3 linked regions of the Homo sapiens genome follow. The protein of the gene in region 3 interacts with the protein of the main gene of each other region in a biochemical or structural test. Each region holds a gene or a part of one and is shown on either strand. Other genes may lie near its edges.

What was found. Proteins that work in one complex are often made in the same cells at the same time.
Region 1: the proteins of MNAT1 (region 3) and POU5F1 form a complex in vitro, tested with the Homo sapiens proteins (one study listed by BioGRID).
Region 2: the proteins of MNAT1 (region 3) and POU2F1 form a complex in vitro, tested with the Homo sapiens proteins (one study listed by BioGRID).

Annotation. Positions count from the first base shown.
Region 1 is NC_000006.12:31,163,800-31,167,682, forward strand, and holds the end of POU5F1 (POU domain, class 5, transcription factor 1), read right to left. Parts: intron 3,372-3,883; exon of another isoform or gene 2,249-3,371; coding exon 2,128-2,248; exon of another isoform or gene 1,903-2,127; coding exon 1,772-1,902; intron 1,488-1,771; coding exon 1,329-1,487; intron 1,069-1,328; coding exon 802-1,068; 3' UTR 538-801; downstream 1-537. UniProt on the Homo sapiens protein: Transcription factor that binds to the octamer motif (5'-ATTTGCAT-3'). Forms a trimeric complex with SOX2 or SOX15 on DNA and controls the expression of a number of genes involved in embryonic development such as YES1, FGF4, UTF1 and ZFP206.
Region 2 is NC_000001.11:167,419,886-167,426,922, reverse strand, and holds part of POU2F1 (POU domain, class 2, transcription factor 1), read right to left. Parts: 3' UTR 1-7,037. UniProt on the Homo sapiens protein: Transcription factor that binds to the octamer motif (5'-ATTTGCAT-3') and activates the promoters of the genes for some small nuclear RNAs (snRNA) and of genes such as those for histone H2B and immunoglobulins.
Region 3 is NC_000014.9:60,793,743-60,800,779, reverse strand, and holds part of MNAT1 (CDK-activating kinase assembly factor MAT1), read right to left. Parts: intron 4,564-7,037; coding exon 4,411-4,563; intron 2,694-4,410; coding exon 2,620-2,693; intron 1,522-2,619; exon of another isoform or gene 1,389-1,521; intron 1,369-1,388; exon of another isoform or gene 739-1,368; intron 1-738.

The DNA of each region.
Region 1 (3,883 bases), on a different chromosome or scaffold from region 3:
TTCCTACCTAGATTTAATGAGCCCAAGTTTTTAAAATGGAAGAAATGACTCTGGGGCAAAGACCCCTAATGAACTAGTGGCAGAGCCAGGAATAAAACTTGAGTAACTAATGAGTCACTTATGGGCAGAGTATGCAAAAACCTTAAGTGGAAACCAAATAGACCCTGGTATCAAGAAAGCACAAAGTATTAATAGAAGTTTCTGGTTGGGGTGATCTAGGTTCAACAGAAATAAGATGATTTCTAAGTATAAAGCCATTTAAGAATTCCAGAGTAGGGTGGGAAAGCAAAAAGCCAGCTCTGAACAGGTAACAGCTACATGGTGACTGAGTCTATGGGCAAAAGTTCTTGCATCACAGGCTTTTGGGAACTAGCCTATCACAGGGCCCTGTACAAATAAACTTGGCTGCAATCCCAGCTCTCCCTCTGATGTTGTGTGACCTTAAGGAGTGTAAATGGCACCTTAGTTTCAGGGTCACTTGGGTATGAGCATTGGATATTCCCATCCCTACCTCAGTAACTGAAGGACAAACCAAGATAAGTGTGTCTATCTACTGTGTCCCAGGCTTCTTTATTTAAGAAAAAAGTGATACATGATGTGGGATTAAAATCAAGAGCATCATTGAACTTCACCTTCCCTCCAACCAGTTGCCCCAAACTCCCCTGCCCCCACCCTTTGTGTTCCCAATTCCTTCCTTAGTGAATGAAGAACTTAATCCCAAAAACCCTGGCACAAACTCCAGGTTTTCTTTCCCTAGCTCCTCCCCTCCCCCTGTCCCCCATTCCTAGAAGGGCAGGCACCTCAGTTTGAATGCATGGGAGAGCCCAGAGTGGTGACGGAGACAGGGGGAAAGGCTTCCCCCTCAGGGAAAGGGACCGAGGAGTACAGTGCAGTGAAGTGAGGGCTCCCATAGCCTGGGGTACCAAAATGGGGCCCTGGGGCCAGAGGAAAGGACACTGGTCCCCCTGAGAAAGGAGACCCAGCAGCCTCAAAATCCTCTCGTTGTGCATAGTCGCTGCTTGATCGCTTGCCCTTCTGGCGCCGGTTACAGAACCACACTCGGACCACCTGCAAGTGAATGACAGAAAGGAGAATGACATTAGACAATGAGCTGAGACGGGCCTGACTCTGCTTGGACATTCTATCCAAAGCCAACAGCCCTAGAGCAGTTAGAGGAGGACATTAGAGAATGAGCTGAGACAGGCCTGACTGCTTGGACATTCTGTCCAAAGCCAACAGCCCTAGAGCAGTTGGAGGAGCCAGAGCTAGGGAAAGCGAGGTGGTGACAGGGGAAAGAGATGGAGCCCGCAGAGAGACATGGCACTCACATCCTTCTCGAGCCCAAGCTGCTGGGCGATGTGGCTGATCTGCTGCAGTGTGGGTTTCGGGCACTGCAGGAACAAATTCTCCAGGTTGCCTCTCACTCGGTTCTCGATACTGGTTCGCTTTCTCTTTCGGGCCTGCACGAGGGTTTCTGCTTTGCATATCTGTGCAGGTGGGAAGGGGGTGACAAGGGCAAGCTTTGGACTTGCTGAGTAACAGCATCACAGGGGTCTGTGACTAGATGTGTCAGCAGAGCCAGGTGGTGGTGTGAAAAGGCAGGATCCTGGAAGGGTTGGCTCTGGACCTTATCCCAGCAGAACTGAGGAATTTCACTCCATCCCACTGAGAACCACTGCACCAAAGACGGAGAGCTACGAGCCAGTGATGGAAGCAATGGAAATTAGGCCAAGAAAGGGAAGGTCCCCGGGTATCCCCCTCCCACCCTTACCTCCTGAAGATTTTCATTGTTGTCAGCTTCCTCCACCCACTTCTGCAGCAAGGGCCGCAGCTTACACATGTTCTTGAAGCTAAGCTGCAGAGCCTCAAAGCGGCAGATGGTCGTTTGGCTGAATACCTTCCCTGGGGGAGGCCAGTCAAAAGAGAAGCAAAGTGAGGGAGCACGCAGGGCCCTTGTGACCCTGAGATCCAAGCTTACCACCTCTTCCCAGAGGGAGCTCAAAGCATCTTCTCCCTCTCCCTACTCCTCTTCATGGGTGAGGGTAGTCTGCCCCTGCCCCTCCCCACTAGGTTCAGGGATACTCCTTAGAGGGGAGATGCGGTCAGAATCTGCAGAGGGGAACCCACCAAATAGAACCCCCAGGGTGAGCCCCACATCGGCCTGTGTATATCCCAGGGTGATCCTCTTCTGCTTCAGGAGCTTGGCAAATTGCTCGAGTTCTTTCTGCAGAGCTTTGATGTCCTGGGACTGGATTTTAAAAGGCAGAAGACTTGTAAGAACATAAACACACCAGTTATCAATCTCCCCTTTCCATTCGGGATTCAAGAACCTACGTGTGGCCCCAAGGAATAGTCTGTAGAAGTGCCTCTGCCTTCCAAGCTGCCCACCTAACTTCTAGAAATAACCTACCCACAAATGTCATTCACCCATTCCCTGTTCACTGACTCATGCATGTAACAAAGGACTACTCTTCCCCCAGAAACTGGCACATCCAAGGGATGCAGAGCATCGTGAAAGGACAGAAAGAGAGACCCTGGCCTCGAGAACACCTGTCAGGTTATGAAGGTTAGAAGTTCTTTGCTGGGCGCGGTGGCTCACGCCTATAATTCCAGCACTTTGGGAGGCCGAGGTGGGCAGATCACGAGGTCAGGAGTTCAAGACCAGCATGGCCAACATGGTGAAACCCCGTCTCTACTAAAAACACAAAAATTAGCTGGGCACGGTGGCACGCACCTGTAATCCCAGCTACTCAGGAGGCTGAGGCAGGAGAATCACTTGAACCCGGGAGGCGGAGGTTGCAGTGAGCTGAGATCACGCCACTGCACTCCAGCCTGGGTGACAGAGCAAGACTCTGTCTCAAAGAAAAAAAAAAAAGAAGATAGTTCATTTAATACCTGCAAAATTCTCTCACTCAAGTATCACCCCCAGTTTAAGGATGTTTTGAGATTAGAGAAATAGATAAGCTGCTAAGTTCTGGGTTAATTAAAAAGGAAGAGCATCATGTCTCAGAAGCTAAATTCAGTATATACTCTCCCCAGCTTGCTTTGAGGGTCCCACAAACTATAACATGGCATGCATACACACAAACACAGCAAAAAAGTAACAGGTGTCATAAGAATGGATAAAGTGCTTTGTGTGTACTTACTCATTTTTTAAATTGATTATCCCTCATCTTTACTGTATCTTTTTCACTATAGAGGCATCCTAATTGATTTTTAAATTCAAGAGATTTATCGAGCACCTTCTATAAGCCAGCGGCTATACAAAGTGGACAAAGAGCCCTGACATCCAGCATGACAGAAGTGCTATTTGGCACTTGTTCTTCAAGTTGCCCACTTGGATCTCTTCCAAGTGCACTTTCCTTTTTTCCCTGCCCTATAACTTTTTAATAATAAACTTCCACTCCTGCTCTGAAAAATAAAAAAGTAAATAAAATAAAAAATGGCCAGGCACAGTGGCTCATGTCTGTAAATCCTAGCACTTTGGGAGGCCAAGGTGGGCAGACTGCTTGAGCCCAAGAGTTAGAAAGCAGCCTGGGTAACATAGTGAGACCCGTGCCGCCCCTTCTCCCACCCCTGCTGCCTCTATTTAAAATATATATATATATTATGGAAAAAAGTAAAGCAGTCTGGGCGCAGTGGTCATGCCTGTAATCCCTTCACTTTGGGAGGCCAAGGTGGGTAGATCACTTGAGGTCAGGAGTTCAAGACTAGCCTGGTCAACATAGTGAGACTCTGTCTCTACTAAAAATACAAAAATTAGCTGGGCATCATGGCGCTCCCCTATAATCCCAGCTACTCAGGAGGCTGAGGCAGGAGAATTGCTTGAACCTAGGAGGTGGAGTTTGCAGTGAGCCAAGATCGCACCACTGCACTCCAGCCT
Region 2 (7,037 bases), on a different chromosome or scaffold from region 3:
TTTGGCTAACAGGCACTCTGGGGCAGTAAGGCTACACAATAGCCACCCAGAGTGCAGAGTTATCTAAGAGAAATGTAGAAGGACTCCCAATAAACCACCTCAGAATTGTCACTGCCTCATTCAAGCTGCTGGACAATTTTGGAAAGAATCATTTACACCACATCTTAAGTTTCCACAAAGAAGAACTCAAACTCACATTTTAAAGTACATAAAACAAAAAGTTCTAGGAGGCCGGGGGCCAATTCCCCTTGTGCCCCTCCTTTGACAACAGTGGACAAACACCCCTGAATTAATAATTAAGACAAAAAAGGAAGAAAAAAAAAGTGAGTTAAGATATTGAAAGAGAGAAAGAAAACATCTTTAGAAAAACACGATCACTGTCTCTTTAAAAGAAAACAAAATCCCAGTTGGGAACAGTAATGAGGAATATGCAATCTAAATTGACACCTGGTGGGAGATTATTATTGAATATTATGTACACTCAGAACTTTTTTCATTTTCTTTTTTATTATGAACACCTAGGCAGTGAAAACTGTTATGTTAATACATACATAGACACACCCAAAACATACAAAAATACTATTATTTCAAACTACTAAGAATAGGACAGTTCAATTATTTTCATGCTATGACTTTAAGAGCATTACACTGAAACAAACAAGAAGTTAAACGACATTTTTTTTTTAATATCCCAGAAATATACCAAAATATACATCTAAGCTTTGGAATTACTGAGGTTAGACTAATGCAAGTGCTGGGTAATCGTACTTAATACACGAGTCTAAGGTTCTGCAGGAAAGAAATTATCTTTGGTATCTGCATCAGGCTAATATTATTAACATTTGGATTTTGCTTTGGGATAGAGCTTGTGTGACCCAAGAACCAAGTACCCCCCTCCCCCAACCAACTGAGATTAAAAAGATCCATGTAAAAAGTTCCTTCATTTGCAATCCCCCCACCCCCCAAGTTAAAAAGTCACAGGCATCTACCTAGCACAAAAGGTTGTGAAGTACAATGCATAGTTGCACAGTGGTGCTGCAAAAAGGAAAGAAAACTACAATAAAGAGAAATGAAAAGCTTGATAATCTTTCTGCATGTTTTCTCACAAACAGGACAGCCACTTCCAAGCAGTTCCAGTACAGGAAAAGAAAAAAAGGCTCAGAAGGGCACCGTGGCGTGCATTCGCCCAGCCCCAGAGGTTAAAGCACCCAGCAGAGCAGCCAATCGTGCGCCAGTGTCTTCAACGTCCCCCACTCTGTGGAGTCCTCGGGCCAGTCCAGCAGCAGCTCCCACCCTCCCTAGGCCCTGTGCTAAGTCCCCATAGTGACCCTGGTTGGTGTAGGGTGGATGATGGTGGTGATGGGGTTTTTTGACTTTTGTTTTGGAAAATCTGAAATGCCAATTTGTTTCAGGGCATGCTCACAAGTTTGTGAGGGCCAAAGCTAGGGGCATGCACCTGTGCTGGACCCTGGAAGGTGGTAAGCAGCTTGCCTGCCCTTTCTGATCCAGTCAGAGGGTCCCCCCGCCCCACCTTCCCTGGCCTCACTCTTCTAAGTGCCAGGACACCACAGACTGGACTGATGCTGAAGACTTCCCTTTTCTTTGGTTCTTTTGTTTGTTTTGAGTTTATACAATCATTAAGAAATCTTTGGTTTTGGCTGGAAATTTGAAAAACAAAACAAAACAAAACAAAACAAAGAAACCACCCTCCCCTGGCTTATAGCAGCAGTATCATGACCTGGCTAAGCTTTTTGTCAGCATTAGGGGTGGGAATTGAAGGTTGGGAACTACATTCAAAGAAAAGGTGAAAGGGCTGGGGATGCAGCTTCTAGAGAGCCCATTGGATATAAGATTGTCAAATAATAATAATAATAATAATAAACTTAAATATTTGGATATTTTTGGTCATGTCAAAGGAAAAAAAGTGAAATGTGTATGCAGCAGTCAGCTTAAAGGAGCCTTTGGTGTCTTCCCTTCTACCCAAAGTCCTGAAAAGAAACAGAACCCTGAGGCCTCAGAGGAGAAGGGGTTGGCCTCTACCCCACCAAGGAAAAGGCAAGTACAGAAGTTGACGTGTGGCCAGCTGTCAGAAACACAGGGTGGGTTAGGGGTGTGGATAGCTGGCCAGCCCCTAAAGGCAGGGTGGCAGGGAAAGCAGATGTTAAGAGACCTGTGAAGACCCCTTGCAACAAAAAGGAATAGAAGATTGCAATTTGCCCTCAGTTTGCAGTAGCTTTTAAGCAGCGACATTCAGAGGCTTTAGGGGGTCCCACCCTAGGCTACAGGTCCCATGATGCTATAGGCCAGAGTTTAACATGACTGAGGAGGGAGGGCAGACTTGGCAACTCTGTAGGATTTCGAGAAAGTTAAAGCAAGTCACTCGGTCACGAGTTAGAAATGAGGTATACAACAGCTCCTGGACTTCTGGTGGGTAGAACAGCCCACGCTTACTCACCTAGCCTTCACTACTACCACAGATGAGGGGATGGAAGTACAGACTTATGCGGGAGGAGAGCGTTTCCTGCGGAGTGAGACCTCCTGCGGACTGAGCAATGCACACGTGCCCATGCACGCAGAGGTAAGAAGCTGGAAGTCTTTCTTTCCCCGACCTGACCTTAGGGAAGATACAACATTTATGTTGTCAAAAGCCAATGTTATAATATGATTGCAAAATCTTAGGCTTCCTGCACCAACCTGTTCCATGTTCTCCAACTGTTTGCAGTTTTAAACCTATTCAGGCTGGCACTAGTCCACTCTACTCTTACAAAGTGTGTGCCTTCTGCAGACTCACGCAGGAATGGAACCAAGGACATGGCATCCCCGACTGCCTACAACTACAGCCTTTTGTAGCAGACACTGTCATTTTAGCTTCTGAAAGTGCATTTCATTTCTTCCTATACTTTTAGACCATGAGACTCATTAAGGCTGGGTGGGAGCACAAAGTCTTTTCTCTACTTGGCTCTGTCCTTTTTCATTTGAAAGAGATCCCAATCTTAAGAAACTCAAGTGTTTGGACGTCTCATTTATACACAGCGCTGTATCCAGCTGTCTGCCTGCAGACTTTGGGATATAATGTTTGAGAACTCAATGCCACTGCCAATTTATGAAAGAAGCCTTAAGCTGCTCTTGTGAAGCTGTGGCTAACTTATACAATGATGAACAAGTACACAAAGAAAACAAGGGAAAACTTTGCAGCAGTCCTCAATGTTTTTTACAGTAAATTAGTTTTGGGGTCTTAACTTTTTGACAGTGTCCTGGGTTTAAACCAGAAGGTGGCCCTGGGTGGTGGAGCCCTGTGCAGGGTGGGCAGATACAGGGACACAGAAACAATCATAAATCACATCTTCCCTACCAGGTCCAAGGGACCTTTGTTTCTGTGCTCAAAGTGGTGTTCCATTACACACACCTTGTTTTCCCAGAACTTCTGTTTCAAGTGCTCTAATCTTCAACATCCCTATTACCTACTTATAAACCTATCTAGCACTTTGACAAGTCATACAATATTAATACCACCTTTACATAATGTCAGAACAATAAGATTATTAGTAAAGCTTTCATGAAGTTCTGCAACCTAATCATTTTTGATGCAATATTCAGAGAGTGATACATTTCTTTACCCTCTCTCCCTTTCTGTGTCCTATCAATAGTACACCGAAACAATGAACTACCTGACTCCCTAGAGCCCATATATAAAAACATTTGGAACAAAACATTTATAGGAGAGTAAGGGAAGATCTTTTGGTTTTCCACGTAATCCTGTTCTTGAAAATTCTTATCTTTTACAGGAGACAGATGGAGATACCACATCTAAATATTGTCTGAACTCATATAGGCTGTGTTGGTTCTATTTAAAAGTATTAGATAAAGGGAAATAATGAAAAAATTCTACCCCTATCTTTTGCCCTCCCCAAATTTCTCAGCAATTCCAAGAACATCACTGCTAGATTGAGCAACTATCCATCTTTAAAGAGCCAGCAGAGCAAAACAAAATAAATCTCTTTTCCAAAGCCAGGATAACCAAGAAGACTTCCTTCAAAAAGCAGGGGACTGGGAAAAGGGGAAAAGGGAAGGAAAGAGATAAAGTAAAGCTTTTCCAAATTTTGGCTTTTTGCTCCTATTCCCTCTGCCTGTTTTGAAAACTTAAGGATAAGCAATGACATTAGCAGTGTCTTTGGTATCTAAACCAAATCCCACTTAAGTTCTGTGGGATCATTTATTTAAAAAAATAGCCTTTCTAGAGATACAGTCTATATCCGAACTCAGGGAGCCAAGAAAGTTTGTCCCAGAGTATGGGCAGAAAGGGCTTGTGATTTTTCCTAAGCCAGCATCATTTCTCATTCATGTTCCCACCAAGAATAATTCTCTCCTCAATCCCACCAACTAATCCTTAAGGTTCACACTTTGTATCACAGGGGTGAGGTGGGCAGGTTAGCTTTCAACTTCTTGGTTTGCTTTTTATCCTGTTTGTGTTTTTGGTCTAGAAAGAACTAGCCTTGGTATGAGAAAAGTAAGTAAGGTTTTAAAGTGTTGTGTTATTAGCACAACATTCAGTAACTTGACAGAGGGCAACACAAAGAACCTGTTTCACTTTAACTTTCCTAGATTTAAGATACATCAATCACTCACCTCTTGGCTCCAAATTAATTGGTGCATGTCTATGTCTGCCTCTGTTTCTCAACTGCACATCCAGGCATTCACGCATTCATCCTTTGCCTATGCTTTTGCTATGTACAGAGGTAATGAATCATTAGGAGAGGTTGGCAGGGTCTGGGGGGCATGGGCAACCATAGGAAGGGATGTAAATGCACCCTCAGGGTCCCTGAACCTACTGGACACCCCATATGTTACCTGCATGCCACCACACACTGCTGCAGACCAGACCACAGAGGCCAAAGCCAATCACAGGGAAAATCAAGTTTCCTTTGGCAAGACAGATATAAGAAAAAACAAACACACACACGAGCAATGTTTTCCTTCTAACATAATCAACATCTCCTCTTCCCCCACCCAACCCTCCCTAACCCTATAAATTGTAACCTATAAACAGGATCCCAAATACATACAGCATCAATCTTGTTTATCGATCATAATAAACATTAGTTCAACTAAATGCTACAGCTAGAATTATTTCCACTATTTATAAAATTTTTTCACTTATTTATTTGGTTTTTAGTTTAAAACCAGTTTTGCAACAATGCTAAGCTATTCTGAGGTATTTTATGAAGGTGCCAGAAGCTAGCTGTTACCCAAATTAAGGTACCACCATTCAATGAGAAAAAGAAGGGAAGGAAAGGAGATCCAGGTGACATAATCAACATAAAATTCACTCACATTTACTGCTTTTAGCTAAGGCCAAGAGTAGAAGGGCCAAAACAAGGAACTACTTAATGAATAAGGTTAGAAGAAAACTACAAAATTTTTTTTTAAAAGCTACAGTTCACAAACCATATAGAAAACTGGGTACAAACTGGATGCTCTGAGAAAAAATATATTCCCTGCCCTCCCAGTGGAATCCTTTCAAATACCTTACTGGAAATCTCAGGGGTGTCCTATTTATATTTAATCTCCTTGGACTAAGAAATGGATGATTGGCCTTTATGATGAAAGCAATTTATTTATCCTATTCCTGTCCAAGTTTACATTTGTATTGTGGACACCATCCATGCAAACCTATATAATAGCTGATCTCAGTTATTCTTCTTACAGAAATAGCAAAGAGGATTTTTCCCTTCTCAAAAGCCAAGTTTGTAAACGCTGAGAAAGATTTACCATTTTATAAAGTGTCATCCTCAAAATGTTGTAAAACTGAAAATGACATCAAATAGCCAGGACTATGAACAGCATCACACATTAAATGCTTTCCACACACACATAAAAGCAAACTCATATCAGTTATGAGCAAATTAACCCATCAATTCTTGTCCATTTTGGAAAATTTTAAATTTTGGGTCTTTAGTATTTTTCTCCCATTAGTATCAGTCATCTTTTAATGTTTTCAACTCTAATAAACAAACTTTAAGTTCATCAAGTTTAGGTGCTGATTTAATGAGAAAGTATTTGGCCAAGCTCTCCAAATGAATTGTTGGGGCCCTTCCTCAAACTGCAGACTGGTCTTCAGAAGGCCCCCCAAGAGCCAGGCCAGAGCCACCTGTCAGCGTGAATCCCCTGCCTCCTCCTTGCTACCACACCCTACACTCAGTGATACAGTGAGTCAGCAATACTACTGACTTCTCCCTGGCAGGGCTTCTCCTTTCTTGGGAAGAAACAACAGCAAGAGGCTTTTCCTCTGTCTTCCTATCTCAATGACCTTATCTTTTTTCTTGGTCAAGAATGTTTCGTGAGGATGACCTGGTTTGGGAACAGCTTTAGACTAAGAACAGAGAGTTCTATAAGCCAAGCGTTTATTCTACACTAATTGCAATGTATAATATCAGGATTTATCACTTTAAAAATTGACATGAGGATGGGCACAGTGGCTCATACCTGTAATCCCAGCACTTTGGGAGGCCAAGGCAGGCAGATCACCTAAGGTCAGGAGTTCAAAAAGCCTGGCCAACACGGAGAAATCCCGTCCCTACTAAAAATACAAAAATTAGCCGGGTGCGGTGGTGGGCGCCTGTAATCCCAGCTACTTGGGAGGCTGAAGCAGGAGAATTGCTTGAACCCGGGAGGCAGAGGTTGCAGTGAGCCGAGATCATGCCGTTGCACTCTAGCCTAGGCAACAGAGCAAGACCAGAAAAAAAAAAAAAAAAAAGACATGAATTCCCTATATTTGCCAATGTATCCAACTTTTCCAGCAAGTTAAAAAGAAAATTTTTTAATGTTAAAGATTGGGCTGAATTTAAATATTGTGTCAAGCAAATATCTGTGCTTCTGGATAATACAGACAAGGTTTCCCTTATCTTTCCAAATAAATGAGGGATAATGGAAGAAAATAACATTAAAGAGGTATAGTTGTGCTTTTTTTTCCCCCAACAATGAATGAGAGATGTACAACAAATTGGCAAGATGATCTCACTAAGAATCTTTAATCTTAT
Region 3 (7,037 bases):
AAACACAATGAGGATTTATAGTTGAACATTTAAATAAGTTTGTTAAAGGAGAGAAACACACACATACACCTGTCTCTCTCTTCAAATACTTTAACTTAAAACATATATAGGAAGTATATAGTCATTCTCTAACTTAATGACATAGAGCAAATTCTAGATTTTAGAGTTTTGCTTCTTCCTTATATAGGCCATAACTGTCATCTATATTGTTCAGTTTCCTTTTCTGTTTTCTGGTTTTTTGAGACATGGGCATGCTCTGTTGCCTAGGTTGGAGTGCAGTGGCGCAACCATGGTTCACTGTAGCCTTGGACTCCTAGACTTCAGAGATCCACCTCAGCCTCCCAAGTAGCTGGGACTACAAACGTGTGCCACTACACCCAGCTACTTTTTAAAATTTTGGTATAGATCTCATTATGTTGTCCAGGCTGATCTCAAACTCCTGGGCTCAAGCAATCCTCTTGCCTTGGCCTCCCAAAGTGCTGTGATTACAGGCGCGAGTCACTGCACCTGGCCAATTTCCATTTTTTAAGAAGTGACTTAAAAACCTGAGAAACAGAATCCTTCTAGAGTTTTACAATTTTTTCCCCAACCTTACACACTTTAAATATTTAAATTACATATAATATTAAATATGTATTTAATTACATAACTACATAACTACAATAACAAGTACAACTGGCATAAGAAGGTTGATGGCATTCACAATGCATTCATTATGCTGTGGGTATCAGTGAGTACCTTTTATGGAAGAACTGGGGAATGACAGTTACTTCAATGAGACAATTAAGTGGAGGTTGCTTAAGAGAGTTTCCCGATACTGCAACTGAAGACAGTCCTTCATGAATACACATAATAGCAGAATCACTTTCAAATTAAATGGTCTGAGCCACAGCTTCTATATTTTGGTAAAGAAAGCATTACATGTTGTATACCCCCAATATCCAGACTTGCTCTTGCCTATCAATTCTAGTACCAATTATGGGCCCCATGTTGTCCACACCTTCAAATTACTTTATCTTGGAGCAACACACACACACACACATATATATGCAGTGTGTGTGTGTATATATATATATATATTTTTTTAATCATAGCTCAGTCAGAATCTTAATCCCAGAATCAAGATCTCCTTGTAGTTCATCCCCTAAACCTATTCCTCACCTTCTCTGTATATGTTTCTTTTAGTTATCCTGACTGCCTGCTTGTAATTGTGACCATGTATTCAACTTGTACTGCAACACCTATAATTTCCTTTCCCTTTATTGCTTGACCAGACTTTTGACTAATCACATTACCTTTAGAATATATGTAAGCTACTTTTCTTCCCAATTGCTATCCAACAGCTTGTCCTATACTTAGTATCTATATAGAGCCAGATTTCTACATACCTTCATACTTGCCCAGTTCTTGTAGATTTCTTTCTGGTTTTTCTTCTCAGTCTACATTCTAACTTTTCCACTTTGCCTTGTCACTCCCAATTCTACCATCTTTTCAGCTAAAATCCATAGTCACTCATGATTGCTAAGATAACATACAAAGTGCAATGAGTACATGCAGAATGGAAAAGCAGTGGCTCTTATGGCACTGAAAGATCCCAGAGAAACCCTAAATTATGTTTTCCACATGCTTTTGCTATGGCATAACAAATGAACTTAGACATATGAGAAAAGTTTCAGGTAACAGTTGAAACAAAAAGATTTTCTGGATTTTCTAGTAAAGAAATTAAAGGAATTAGAATATTTATTATTCCTCAGGAATCTGAATTGTTAAGTTTATCATATATAAATCTTCTAAAGAATGATCCATTTTATTATAATCTTATTTTTAATAGTAAATATTGAGTACAGTTACCTATTAAGTTTGAAAGAATAAAAATGATTGCTGTTTGATCCTCATAGTCTCATTCTAATGTTCACAGTATATAACCTTTGTGTCATTTCCAAACCCGCACTTAGTAATAATTACTGCAAGTTTAAAAAGCAGCATTATTTTTTAAATCAACATATAACAACTTCCAAAGTTTTTAACATCTCTGAAATTTTATTTAAGAAAACTGAAATCATTTTTTCTTGATAAAATCTTCCTTTTGACTAAACACATCAGAAAGAAAAGGCACAAAGATTACTCCAACCTCTGATTCCAGAATAATACTGATTAATAGAATGCCACTTCAACAGTCAACTGCTTCAAAGTACTTTAAGACTACTATATCCACAGAAGCACAAATAATGATAAACATATGGCTTTAGTCACTATAAATATGGTTAATAGGAACCCCATTTTTGAAAAATCAGAATATGTTTTCCATTCATTTAAACTACTCTAATATGTTATCAACACACAGATGCATGTACCCATATAGTCTTCCTCCCCAGCTATGAAGTGTTACTATCTCTATTAAACATATTTTTCCTAAAAGACAATATTAAATAGGTTCTTTACTTAAGTATGCCTTCAATTTGACAAACATGACTCAAGTGCAAAAGAAAGTAATTAGGTAAATGTTAGCTATCACAACAAAACCTGTTAAGAGGTTTTTATGTGAGATGTTCTCCTAAGCATTTAAAAGATAAAAGCACATGGTCTTATAGGCTAGCATACATCAAATTAAAAACGTACCAATTTCTTCCACTTCTTCCAAGAAATCATTGTATTCTCTTAGACTAGGAAAATCTTCTTCCCTTTTATTGTATCTTTAAGAAAAGAAAAAAGAAATCTACATATTACATATCATTGCTTTTAATATTATCTAACTGGTTTGCTTGTTCTGACCTAATTCATATATGATACATGGAAAAGAATTGCTTACTGTGTAAAACATCGTTCTCTATTTTTTTATTTTTATTTTTTGAGATGGAGTCTTGCTCTGTTGTCCAGGCTGGAGTGCAGTGGCACAATCTTGGCTCACTGCTACCTCCATCTCTCTGGTTCAAGCAATTCTGCTGCCTCAGCCCCCCGAATAGCTGGGATTATTACAGGCGCACACCACCATATCCACTTAATGTTTTTTGTATTTAGTAGAGATGGGACTTCACCATGTTGGCCAGGCTGGTCTCAAACTCTGATCTCAAGTGATCCACCACCTCGGCCTCCCAAAGTGCTGGGATTACAAGCATGAGCCACCGCGCCCAGCCTAAAACACTGTTTTTCTTGACACCAGGTTTGTAACCAGACCAAAAATGCAATTCTTAAATTCTTATGACTACGGAGAAGAAGTAGGATCAGGAGAAAATGGTACAATATGCAAAATCCTTGTTAAGACTTCAGGGAAAGATAAATTGGGAGCTTGAAAGATTGGGAAATGAGCTTAAGCAAGACATAACATTGGAAATTATGGTATTATTTACTTCTAAGGGATTCACTAATTTCCAAAACACAAAAAATTGAAGCGACTCCTCCATTTTTCATGACATAGTCTAAAAAATACTGGATCAAGAAAATCTGTATATATTGTAATGTACCTGTAAAGAATCAGTAAATTGCAAGGAATTACCAATGAAAGATCAAAATCTAAGAGACTACCTTGCAGAAGTTATACAAACAATAAAAGAGCCGCTAGGCGGATTGATAAAGTATTATTGGTTATGTACCTAGAAAGATGCTGCTAAAACACTGGTTACCTGGGTTGAAATGTATACCACCAAAAATAAAAATAAACATATCAATTATTTCTCATAATAACAGATAAAAGGAAACCCAAAACTATTAACAAAGAGTAAAGAGTAAAGCCTAAATTGTAAATGAAAAAGACAGATTAATAATATATAGGTATATATATACATATATACACACATATATTTACTATGCCCATGTGTGTATATCTATATACACAAAAATACACATACCAAAATAAACTATAGCTAACACGTAATTTTCTCTAATAGCCTTCAAACTTCAACTTAATGTTACCTCCTCTGCCCACACCTGACATCATTGACCACAGCAACACTGAGTCACTAACTATATAGCACTATTCTCAATCTATAATAAATAACATTTGTTTTGGTTTACTTGTTTTTTTGTCTTTTTGCTATCCTATGCTACTGTATGGTAAGTCTCATGAGGACAGAGTTCATAGCTGTTTTACTCATCACTTCATAACTACTGCTTAACATGCATAACATGTTTACACATAGTAGTGTTTACACATAGTAGGTACTCAATACATAGTAGGTACTCAATACATGTTTATTAATCAAAGAATAAATACAAATGAATAATGAAGCCATCAATCAAGAGGCTCTTCTTTAACAAAGATAAATAATATTACTCAGTTCTCTAAGAACTTAAATGAATTTATAGTTATTTACTTGCTAATCTGTCCACATTTATGAGCAAATAATAATCAATTACTGACATAATTGTTAAAGTCCTCTTTGTTGACTGAATCATTCGAGCAGGAATACTTACATCTTTAGCACTTTTTTCCTGATCTCAACCTCCTTGTCAACAGTGGGATCTTCAAAGAGTTGTACCCTGAAGTTGCTCTTTCTGAGTGGAGTACCACACTCAGGGCAGTTTCCAGCTCCTCTCACAAACAGTAAATCTACACAACTTTCACAGCTGTAAGGACAGAAATAAAACATAACATTTAAGCCAATGTTCAAATCTACAACACATCTGAATAGTTTGCCCCTATGGGATAAGGAGAGTGAGACTTGAAAACTAGTCACTTCTATTTAAAATCTTACCAAAAAACTTTCTGGAAAATGTTCTTTTTCATTTGGAGCTTACTTTTCAGATATAGGTATCCCAAGTGATACCAGTTTAGTTTTACAGATCAAACAAATTTATAAATTAAAACAAATTGAGTGAGAGACTAGGAAGAAGAGCAGGATAGGGAGAAGTCAAAGAGCATGTAAAAGGCTACTGTATGGTCACCTCCATCCCCAGTCCCAATATCATCCATAGACCTGGGCAAGAGAAGCCTCTGCCAGGGGCCTGCTCTTTAGAGAGCCCTATATACCCCAAGCACTAAAACAGATGTTTTTTTCTTCCTTTCCTTGTAAGAATGTCTTTTGAAAGTTCAGTAATCAACTGAGCAAATGACAATTACAAGAAAGAGGTGCTAGCTGAATGAGGCCTCACTGGCCAGAGGATAAAGAACTTTGAGCGCTCCAGTATGTGTGAGGGAGAAAATGAACACAACTTCTGCCATGAGAAATCCCAGAAAGAGTGGCTGCTTATAAAAGCTTTATTCGGTTAAAGTTCGTTGCCCCAAATAAAGCAAACCGAATTCCCAGGCAAGCCAGGTTTCCCAGATACCTGCATCCCCTTTTCTGGTAGTGCAACATTAAGAAGGGCTTACAACTTCCTAGAAGACTTGAGTTGAAAAAACAATGAACTGGAGAGGCAAACCTCTCTATAACCAGATTCCTGGGGACTTGGTGGGATCTGTTAATATACTGTTTTAGATGGGTCTAGGTACCACCCCAATCATCCCTGCCCTACCCCAACAGATCCATACTACCACTCAGTCAGGCAGGTTACAAAGATGGATGGGAGGAGAGAGCAGTTCCTTTAGCCTCTGAGTCTTGAGGGTATAGGCTGCTGGCAACTCAACATGCTGTGTAGGAAATCAGGCTGGGCCAAGGATGTGGCTTGATTTATAACTTTTAAATATTCGAATGTTTTGATAAATATTTAAACATTTGTAGTCCTCCAGGTGTAATCTTGCCCAATTCCATATGTGTTAGGACCACACAGTCCTAATCACTCCTTTTGTTGGCAATATCTGACATCATCTTATTTATTTCTGTGTTCTGTCTCCTAGACAAGGAAGTACAGTATATTTCATAAAGACAGAATGTTGCCTATCTTGTTCTCTATCCGCAGTGCCTAACGCTAAGTACTCACTAAGTAAACTTCACAAAACAAAAAAATGAATACAAGACAAAGGGAAAAAGAGAAATTCTAATGAATAGGGAAGAGTTGATTTCTTCCAAGTGTGTATTTAACTTACAGAATAAGCTAAATAAGAAAAGTAATAAGAAAAATAAGAATTTTTAAGGTTATTAGTAAAATACTAACATTGATCTTTAAATATATACATACACACACAGACATATATATACACACATATGTATATATATACCTATTTTATATATATATATATATATTTTTTTTTTTTTTTTTTTTTTTTTGAGAATGCAGTGAAGTTGTCACAGCTCTCTGCAGCCTTGCCCTCCCAGATTCAGGCAATCGTCCTACATCAGGCTCCTCAGTAGCTGGGATAACAAGCACACACTGTCACGCTCTGCTAATTTTTTTATTTTTTTGTAGAGACTGGGACTCCCCATGTTGCTCAGGCTGGTCTCGAACTCCTGGGCTCAAGCGATCCTCCTGCCTTGACCTCCCAAGGTTCTGGGATTATAGGCATGAGCCACCACTCCTGGCCTATATTTCTATCTTAATAGTGTCACTAAAAAATAACAGGGAAAAATTCCAAAGATCATAGTGTCATTAGCAAGATCAACTAAACCCCAGATAAACCACTCTGGACTTAGGAAGTTTCAGAGTGGTGCATTTTCACTATTCTTTGTGGTTAGAGGAAATTAAACCCATCCATGGAAGGTGAAAACAGGCAAACTTTACAACTATACTAACTAAAGATATTTATAAGTAAGCATCTATCCAAAATAGTCAAAATTACAGAGCCACAAATAACATTAATATATCTCAAGGTCTTGGAGATTAGACTCAATCAATAGTTTAGTCAGCAAGGTAATATAGAACATTAATATTTCTAAACGTTATATTGTATATTAGACATAATATATTGTTTCCAAAATCAGTTGTACATCTCCACTTTTTATAATCTGCCTTGTCATAATAATTTAAATAGTATTAAAATTTTTTATTGCAGTTTATTTTCCTACGTAACATTTTCCATTTCTAATTTTAACTGTGAAAAGAATATTTTTTCTTTAAAGCTTATAAAATATAGAATTATATAGAAAAATAACTCAAAGTTCTACTTCATTGTGTTCTGTATCTCACTTCCCACGGGTAATATGCTACTGTTGAGTTTAGTGTTT